Homo sapiens: one gene and its partner. The protein of the gene in region 1 purifies or fractionates together with the protein of each later gene. This does not show direct contact. Each region holds a gene or a part of one and is shown on either strand. Other genes may lie near its edges.

Region 1 (3,815 bases):
CCTGTCTGTTCTTCCACGTCTGTCTCTGACCTTGGGTCCTGTGGCCTGGCAGCACAAGGGCATTGAGGGTGGGAAGCATGCTGCTTCCATTGGCCTAGCCCATGGAGTGGGGCCGAGGGATCACTGGGATTTTTGGAGGGGATAGGGATTAATAACTGGCCTTCGAGATGCCTTGTCCCTCCTGTCCCACAGCTCCAGGCCCCTCTGCGGCGGTTCCTGAGACAGGAGATGGTCATTGAAGTGGTAAGAAGTGTCCCAGTATCTGTCCGGCTGTCCCCACCTCCTCACTTTGTCCTCTCTTCTGCTCACACCCTCTACCTGCAGGTCTCCCTGCTCTTTCACCCCGAGGGGAGCCCTGGTCGAGTCCCCACTCTGCTCTGACTCTCTGGGAAGCTGGGGAAGAGCCCTCACTCTCCCTGGGTCTCAGTGTCCCCTTGGGCACTATGGGCAGGGGGGTGGGCTTCTGGACTGTGTCCACCCAGCCTGAATTCTGCCTTGGGCTCCACAGAAGGCGATCGGTGGCAAGAAGGACCGGTCTCTCTTCCTGTTCACGGACCTCATCGTCTGCACCACTCTGAAGCGAAAGTCAGGCTCCCTGCGGCGCAGCTCCATGAGCCTGTGAGTGGCTGGGCCGGGGTTTGGGTGGTGCCAACAGGGGGAGCATTTGTCCCTCTCTGAGCCCCACTCCCCGACCCTGGCCAGAGCGCCCCATTGGCTCCCCACAGGTACACGGCAGCCAGTGTCATTGACACAGCCAGCAAGTACAAGATGCTGTGGAAGCTGCCGCTGGAAGACGCAGACATCATCAAAGGTGGGTTTGATGCTAGGGGTTCTGGGTGTTGGGGTCTTCCTCTGAGAAGCCCTCCTGGAGGGTCTGAGCTCCAGCCAGTCTGGCTGCCTGTCCAGCTGCTTTTCCACTTTTGGGCCTCGCTCTCTCATCCAGTGCAAGGGGGCTGGCATGAAGGACCCATTTGGCACCCATGGAGCCAGACAGTCTGTCCATGTACACTTCCTTCCAACTGGGCAGGGACCTAGGCTGGCAGCGGGAGCTGGGTGGGGGTGGTGCACACAGAGCAGCATCACTGTAATTAGCCATTGATTCATCTGTGCAAAATCATTTGAGCGCCTAATATTAGATGATGTTGCACTGTCTGGTTCAGCGGTTTCACACACAGGGAACAGACACTCGCTTGAGTTACTGCAAGCAAAGGGTTGATTGGAGCCATCCATGTTGTTCAGGGCTGAGACTGTTGGGAGCTGAGGCAGCTTCCAGGAGCCGCTCCTCCTGCGGCGTCTGTCTTTCTTCCCTTCTTGCTGAGTCTGCCCTGTTCTCACTGCTGTTAGCTTTCCCTGCTTCCTCATAACTCCCGTGATCAGACCCAGGCTGGCTCCTGGCTCAGCTGGAGGGGAGCTCACCTGGAGCTTGGCCCTCAGGGTAACAGACAGGTTTGCTCGGCCCCTTGGTGAACCCAGGCCTGCCCACTATGTAGGAATACCAGCTGATTATTACTCTAATTGGTCCAAGTCAATAGAATGACCACCTTTAAGTTAGGTGCCCACTCCTGGTCCAGTCAGCTGTGAGCAAGAATGGGGCAGGGTCATATGGAAGAAAACATGGCTGCCCAGGTGGTGAGGGTTGGGATGGGACAGTTTCTGTCAAAAGGAGTAGATCGGCTTCATCTCTTCAGGCTGTTTTAACAAAAATACCACAGACTGGGCAATTTATAAACAAGAGGAATGTATTGCTCACCGTTGAGGAGGCTGGGAAGGCCAAGATGAGGGTGCCAGCAGAACTGCAAGGGGCCTGTGCCTCACAGAGGGTGCCTTCTATGTGTCCTCACTTGGCAAACAAGCTCCTTCAGGCCCCTTTATCGGCACAAATCTCATTCACGATGGTTTCCCCCTCATGACCAGGTCACCTCCCAAAGGTCCGCCTCTTTTTTTTTTTTTTTTTTTTTTTGAGACGGAGTCTCACTCTGTTGCCAAGCTGGAGTGCAGTGGCACGATCTCGGCTCACTGTAACCTCTGCCTGCCGGGTTCAAGCAATTCCCCTGCCTCAGCCTCCCAAGTAGCTGGGACTACAGGTGCGCACCACTACGCCCGGTTAATTTTTTTTTTTTTTGTATTTTAGTAGAGATGGGGTTTCACCATGTTAGCCAGGATGGTCTTGATCTCCTGACCTTGTGATCTGCCCACCTCGGCCTCCCAAAATGCTGGGATTACAGGCGTGAGCCAACACGTCAGCCAGGTCCGCCTCTTAATACCAACACACTCAGGATTCGATTTCAACCTGTGAGTGTTGAGTGGACACAAACATTCAGGCAACAGCAGAGCTGTTCCCAGCCTCGGCCTGGCAGGAAACTCCACTGCCATCCACCGGGCACACACTCTTCTTCCCGTAGACACAGTGAGACAGCCTCCCTGTCCAGCGTGACTCCATCTTACAGTTACAAAGCGTGCCCTCCCCTCCTCAGCAGGCTGCCTCTCACCCCCACGGGGTTCTTGGTCACAGGGCCACTTCAGACAGGACTTGCCAGTCTCAGGTTCCATGTCTCTAGTGCTGTCATGACCCGTCCAGGGCTGCCTTACCATTCTGCAACCTGTGGCCCAAATATTAAATTTATATACACCAATAACACATTCTATAAACTAGATTGGAGAAAAACAGGAAAAGAAACTCATTTAGGAAAAAGCAAAAAGACACTTCTTTTCCCTTGATTTCAAGACACATGTGTCCTGGCCCAAGGGTGGAGGGACAGCTCCATGTATGGACCACTGGTCCAGAATGTGCGTCCCAAGCCTTGGGTTGAGGGCGGCAGGCCGTCTGCAGGACCAGCTGCTTGGCAGTGTTCAGGTATGGGATAGGACCATAGAAATCCAGGGCACCATGCACTGCCCCCTCCTTTGTGGGGCGATGAGTCTCTTGGTCAGCACATTTGACTGCCTGGGGCTCTGCCTGCTCTGTCAGCACGCCCACGGGAGGCTGCAACGCCGCAGCAGTTCCGTGTCAGCCAGGGCCTGTGTATCGCAGAGCCAGCCACCATTTCATACTCCATGCTCTCCTGGGAATTCTCCGTGGGCCTGACATCCTGCGCCACATGGCTCTGAATCAGGCCTAGTCCCCAGCTCACAGGGCTGGGGTTCCTCAGGGAGCTGCCTGTTAACTTTTTTCCCAAGAGCTTGGGGTTTCTATGCTTTCGGTTTGTCAGGTCTCTCCCCGGCCCAGCTGCAGGCTATGCAGTGAGGGAAGGAGAGTCTGTCCCAGCCTGACCTTGTCTGTCTCTGTATCAGTCCACGGCCTTCCTCTCTCCCTCTAGGGGCATCCCAAGCCACCAATCGGGAGAACATCCAGAAGGCCATCAGCCGCCTTGATGAGGACCTCACCACCCTGGGCCAAATGAGCAAGCTCTCTGAGAGCCTTGGTTTCCCCCACCAGGTCTGTGCCCTCTGCCTGACACTGGGGAGCCAGAGGGTGGGAGGCTTCTGACCCTGTCTGAGAGATAGACAGCCCTGACATTTGCCTGAGGGAAGAGACATCCCTTTCCCTCATCTGAAGGCAAAAATCGCAGCCTCCCTGCGTATGGGGGAAGTAACATGTTCCAGGTCTGAGGGTGGAGACATAGCTGCATCCCCATCAGAGGGTGACAGAGGCCCCATCCCCCATATATCAAAGGAATCCAGGTCTGAGGGAGGAGACAGTCTCACTTGCTGTCTAAGGAGAGAGGCAGGTCCCCACACATTAAGGGCAGGTGCAGGCTCTGGTGAGATGCTGGGGCCTGAGGCCTGGGCCCTCTTCCCCACAGAGCCTGGACGAT
Region 2 (3,815 bases), on another chromosome or scaffold:
AGTGCCATGTCATACTTCAGTAGGAAAATACATTAATTAATTAAAATAACATGTTCATACTATGTAACAGTAGCTGTTAAAACAAATTGCCTATGTTGTGTCAATGTACCAGGGGATCTCAAAGTCAGAGGAGAAAAAAAAAACTTGCATCCTCCTGGAGCACAACTTTGATCTGAAGATTTGGGGAAAAGCTAGTTATTATTATTATTATTATTATTATTAGAAATAGGGTCTCACTCTGTTCCCCAGGCTGGAGTGCAATGATGTGATCATAGCTCACTGCAGCCTTGTACTCCTGAGCTTAAGTGAACCTCTTGCCTCAGTATTCCCCCCACCTCCTTTGACCCCAGCTGAGACTACAGGTATGTCCCACTATACTCAGCTAGTTTTTAAATTTTTTGTAGAGACAGGGTCTCGCTACATTGCCCAGGCTGTATTTTTAAAAAGCAAATATAGAAATACTGTGGAGAAGAATGCAGTATTCTCATAGCTTTTAAAGTCAAATCAAAGCTTTTCCAGCTCATGGCTGGTCTGCTTTTGCCCCCACCAAGGCTGCCCAAGGGCTCCCATTTGTCTTCCGTCCTGTTAGCAATGCTGCCGTGGGAAGTTAGCAAGCACTGCTACAGCCTCCCCTCCAGTGGTGTGTCTGTCCCATGGCAAGCATTTAACATGCAATATGATGCTAATGTACATGCTGGAGTGAAGCAAATGCCTAACAAGGCTTCCAGGAGTCCTGGTGGGCAAGTACAGGAGCCAGTTAGGAAAACAGAAAATAGGATTAAAGACTTGAGCTGATGGAAGCATGACTTGGGCCCTTAAATAACTCTTCCTATTATCCAAATATACAAGCCTTGGGAAGGAAAATAAGGAGTATGGCTTTTTTTTTTTTTTTTTTTTTTTGAGACGGAGTCTGGCTGTGTCGCCCAGGCTGGAGTGCAGTGGTGCGATCTCCGTTCACTGCAAGCTCTGCCTCCCGGGTTCACGCCATTCTCCTGCCTCAGCCTCCCGAGAAGCTGGGACTACAGGTGCCCGCCACCACGCCCAGCTAATTTTTGTATTTTTAGTAGAGACGGGGTTTCACCATGTTGGCCAGGCTGGTCTCGAGCTCCTGATCACAGGTGATCCACCTGCCTTGGCATCCCAAAGTGCTGGGATTACAGGCGTGAGCCACCACGCTCAGCCCTCTTTATTCTTTTTAATATGTCTTCAATATTTCATAATTTTAAACAATTAGTGCACCGATTTGCACCAGAACCAAATCCACATTTTCTAAAACTAGTAAATTAGAACAGAATCTGCATATCAATGTATCCTCCAACAAAACATGAATTGATCTTAGATATTTAATTCATTTCTGGCTGCTGGGCAAATATAACACAGCAACCGCCTGTTTTGTAATGTAGCTATTTGAAGATGGGCCAATTAAGTTTGTTTTATTTTAAACAACTAAAAGACTTCTATATATTCTGGGAAATACTTGCAGAGGATGAAGGACAGAATGAGGCGGGATAAGGAGAAGTCTCAGTCTGAAATATGGTACGGCAATGGGAAGGAACAAGCTGAAAGAGGAAAGAGGAACAGATCTTACTAGAATGCAGAGCTCGTATTTCCCAATCTTACAACACAAACTTGCCAAAGATTAAATCATACTTGAAAAACAAGGTGCCCACTAGTGACTGCTCCTGTCCAAGGTTAGAAGAACACAGAAGACTAAAAGCACGGGCCTTGGAGTTAACCAACCCAAGGTCTGATGGTGCAGATATGTGTGCAGTGACAACCTCTCCAAACTTCTGGTCCTTCCTCAGTAAAACATGCAAAGAACAGTACTTATCTCAGAAGGCTGAGGTGACACTTAAGGTGACCATGTACATATTAGGCGCAGTGTCTAGCAAGCGCAAGCCCTCAGTCAAAGCTATTTCTCTTTCGTCCTTGGTTGTGGAATAATCTCGTGTTTTAGGTGTTCTTTCCCTCTGTTTTCCCCATCAAGATCTGCTGAATATAAAGAGGCAAAACCTGTAAGAGCTGCGGGTCAGCATTGCCAGGTGTAGAAAGCCACCATAGTGTAAGCTAGCCAAGCTATGAGATAGATTTCCACCTGGGTAGGAAGCAGTCAAAAAGCCAAAAAGTCTTGCTGTCTGCCCAGCCTGCCTCTTGGTTTCTAATTCTCATGGCGGGTCCTATTTCCCGCTGTTGTCTTGTCCCTGTGTTTGGCCTTCTTTTCTGTTTTTAGAGGAGTTCCTCTTGCTTGACCTCTATTTATCTCCTTGCCTTCCACTTGGAGATCTGCGCCTTTCTGGGTTTTAACTGCCTGTTGCTTTTAACCATGTCCTTCCTCTTGCCTTTGGGAACTTATGGGCTTCTTCTAACTTCCTGATTGGCACCGGGTTTCCTGCTTTTTGTCCTTTGATTCATGTGCCCTCCTTTCTTCTGCTTGCTTATGTGGTCTTTGACTCACTCATCTTGTCTCTTTCTTTGGCATTTTATACCAGCTAGGTTTTGATCCAGGTTTTGTAATGACTTATGGATGCTGTATGCACCCTGACTTGTGAGTGCTTACCTAGATGATGTGCAAAACATTTAGCAACTGGTATAGAAGGGACACTGCCCAGTCAGAATGGTTGTTTATCAACAATGAGGACAGTTGTCCCCATGCACACCGCTTGAATAGCAGCCCAGCTCACTGGACTCCACACTCCTCTAACCACTCTGATGAGGGACCTCCTGGTCCTTTCTTAGGGCTTGTGCCCCAGCTTGTCTCCTTTCTCCTCATGTCCAGGCTTGGCATGGCTGGCCTTGTGCCCTATTTTGTGAGCTCCTGCCACTCACAGTCCTGGAGTTGACTTTCTCATCCCCACCCTACCTAGCTCTCACCAGGGGAACCTAGGAATAGTGATGACACATGTGAAAGAGGTAATTAGTGGGGCAGCCTTGATGCCAAAACAGGATGGCAAATCATAAAAGCAGAAATAGCAAGAAATCACAGCTTTAAGGAAGGTTGTGCTGAAACATGGGACCAAGGCCAAGGAACTCAAAATGGCTTTGGGAGGAAAGGTGGCTATTTCAGTCCATGGAAGAGCCATAGCAGAAGAGCGCATCTCATTTTACACAACCACGAAGCCTTAAAGTTACGTAGAATTGACTTTTTGGTGTGCTGAAAATAAAAATGGTTCATAGTATACAACAAAGGACTAAGCAGGAGAATTTATAGGAAGAAAGTTAGGAAATTTAGGATGAAAAAGTAGACTGGGGTCAAACTGTTATGATCCATTAAAACCAGAAACTGAAATTTGAATTCTAATCTGTAAGTAATGTGAAGCACAAATACTTACAACTTACACATTTAATCATATGTCCTGACCTTTCACTCAAAAATGCATTAAAGGCAGTTTCTCAAAGGTGGTTCCATGTAACGATAGCCCCTCAAGATATTTTTCATTTTTTATTTTTGCACACAGTTTGGGAAACATTACATATCACATCCTATGGACATTCCCACCCCATTTACATCCCCATATACAATGATCATTAACCCATGAAAGGCTCTGAAAAGTCAAGAATAAACCAACTTGTCCAGCTTTGTTTAGTGTTTTCCACATCTGGCTAGGCAATTTCTTTTTCTTGTAACCCATTAACATTCTATGTATTTTGGGGAATACTGACTGAGAGATTCACAAGTACACACAGACATTCATGCAAGTAAATATGTATACTTTAAATTAGTATTTTCATGTATACATAAACACATATAATCCAGGTAAAGCAAAAATATCTTTGCAGCAAGGGATTCCGTGTAAGAGATTAAGTGTTGTAAGAGT

Evidence for each region.
Region 2: the proteins of ARHGEF17 (region 1) and TMOD2 purify together in Homo sapiens (affinity purification with mass spectrometry; one large-scale study listed by BioGRID and IntAct). This does not show direct contact.

What each region holds. Positions count from the first base shown.
Region 1 is NC_000011.10:73,356,517-73,360,331, forward strand, and holds part of ARHGEF17 (rho guanine nucleotide exchange factor 17), read left to right. Parts: intron 1-192; coding exon 193-243; intron 244-508; coding exon 509-618; intron 619-725; coding exon 726-811; intron 812-3,317; coding exon 3,318-3,436; intron 3,437-3,803; coding exon 3,804-3,815. UniProt on the Homo sapiens protein: Acts as a guanine nucleotide exchange factor (GEF) for RhoA GTPases.
Region 2 is NC_000015.10:51,754,487-51,758,301, reverse strand, and holds part of TMOD2 (tropomodulin-2), read right to left. Parts: intron 1-3,815. UniProt on the Homo sapiens protein: Blocks the elongation and depolymerization of the actin filaments at the pointed end. The Tmod/TM complex contributes to the formation of the short actin protofilament, which in turn defines the geometry of the membrane skeleton.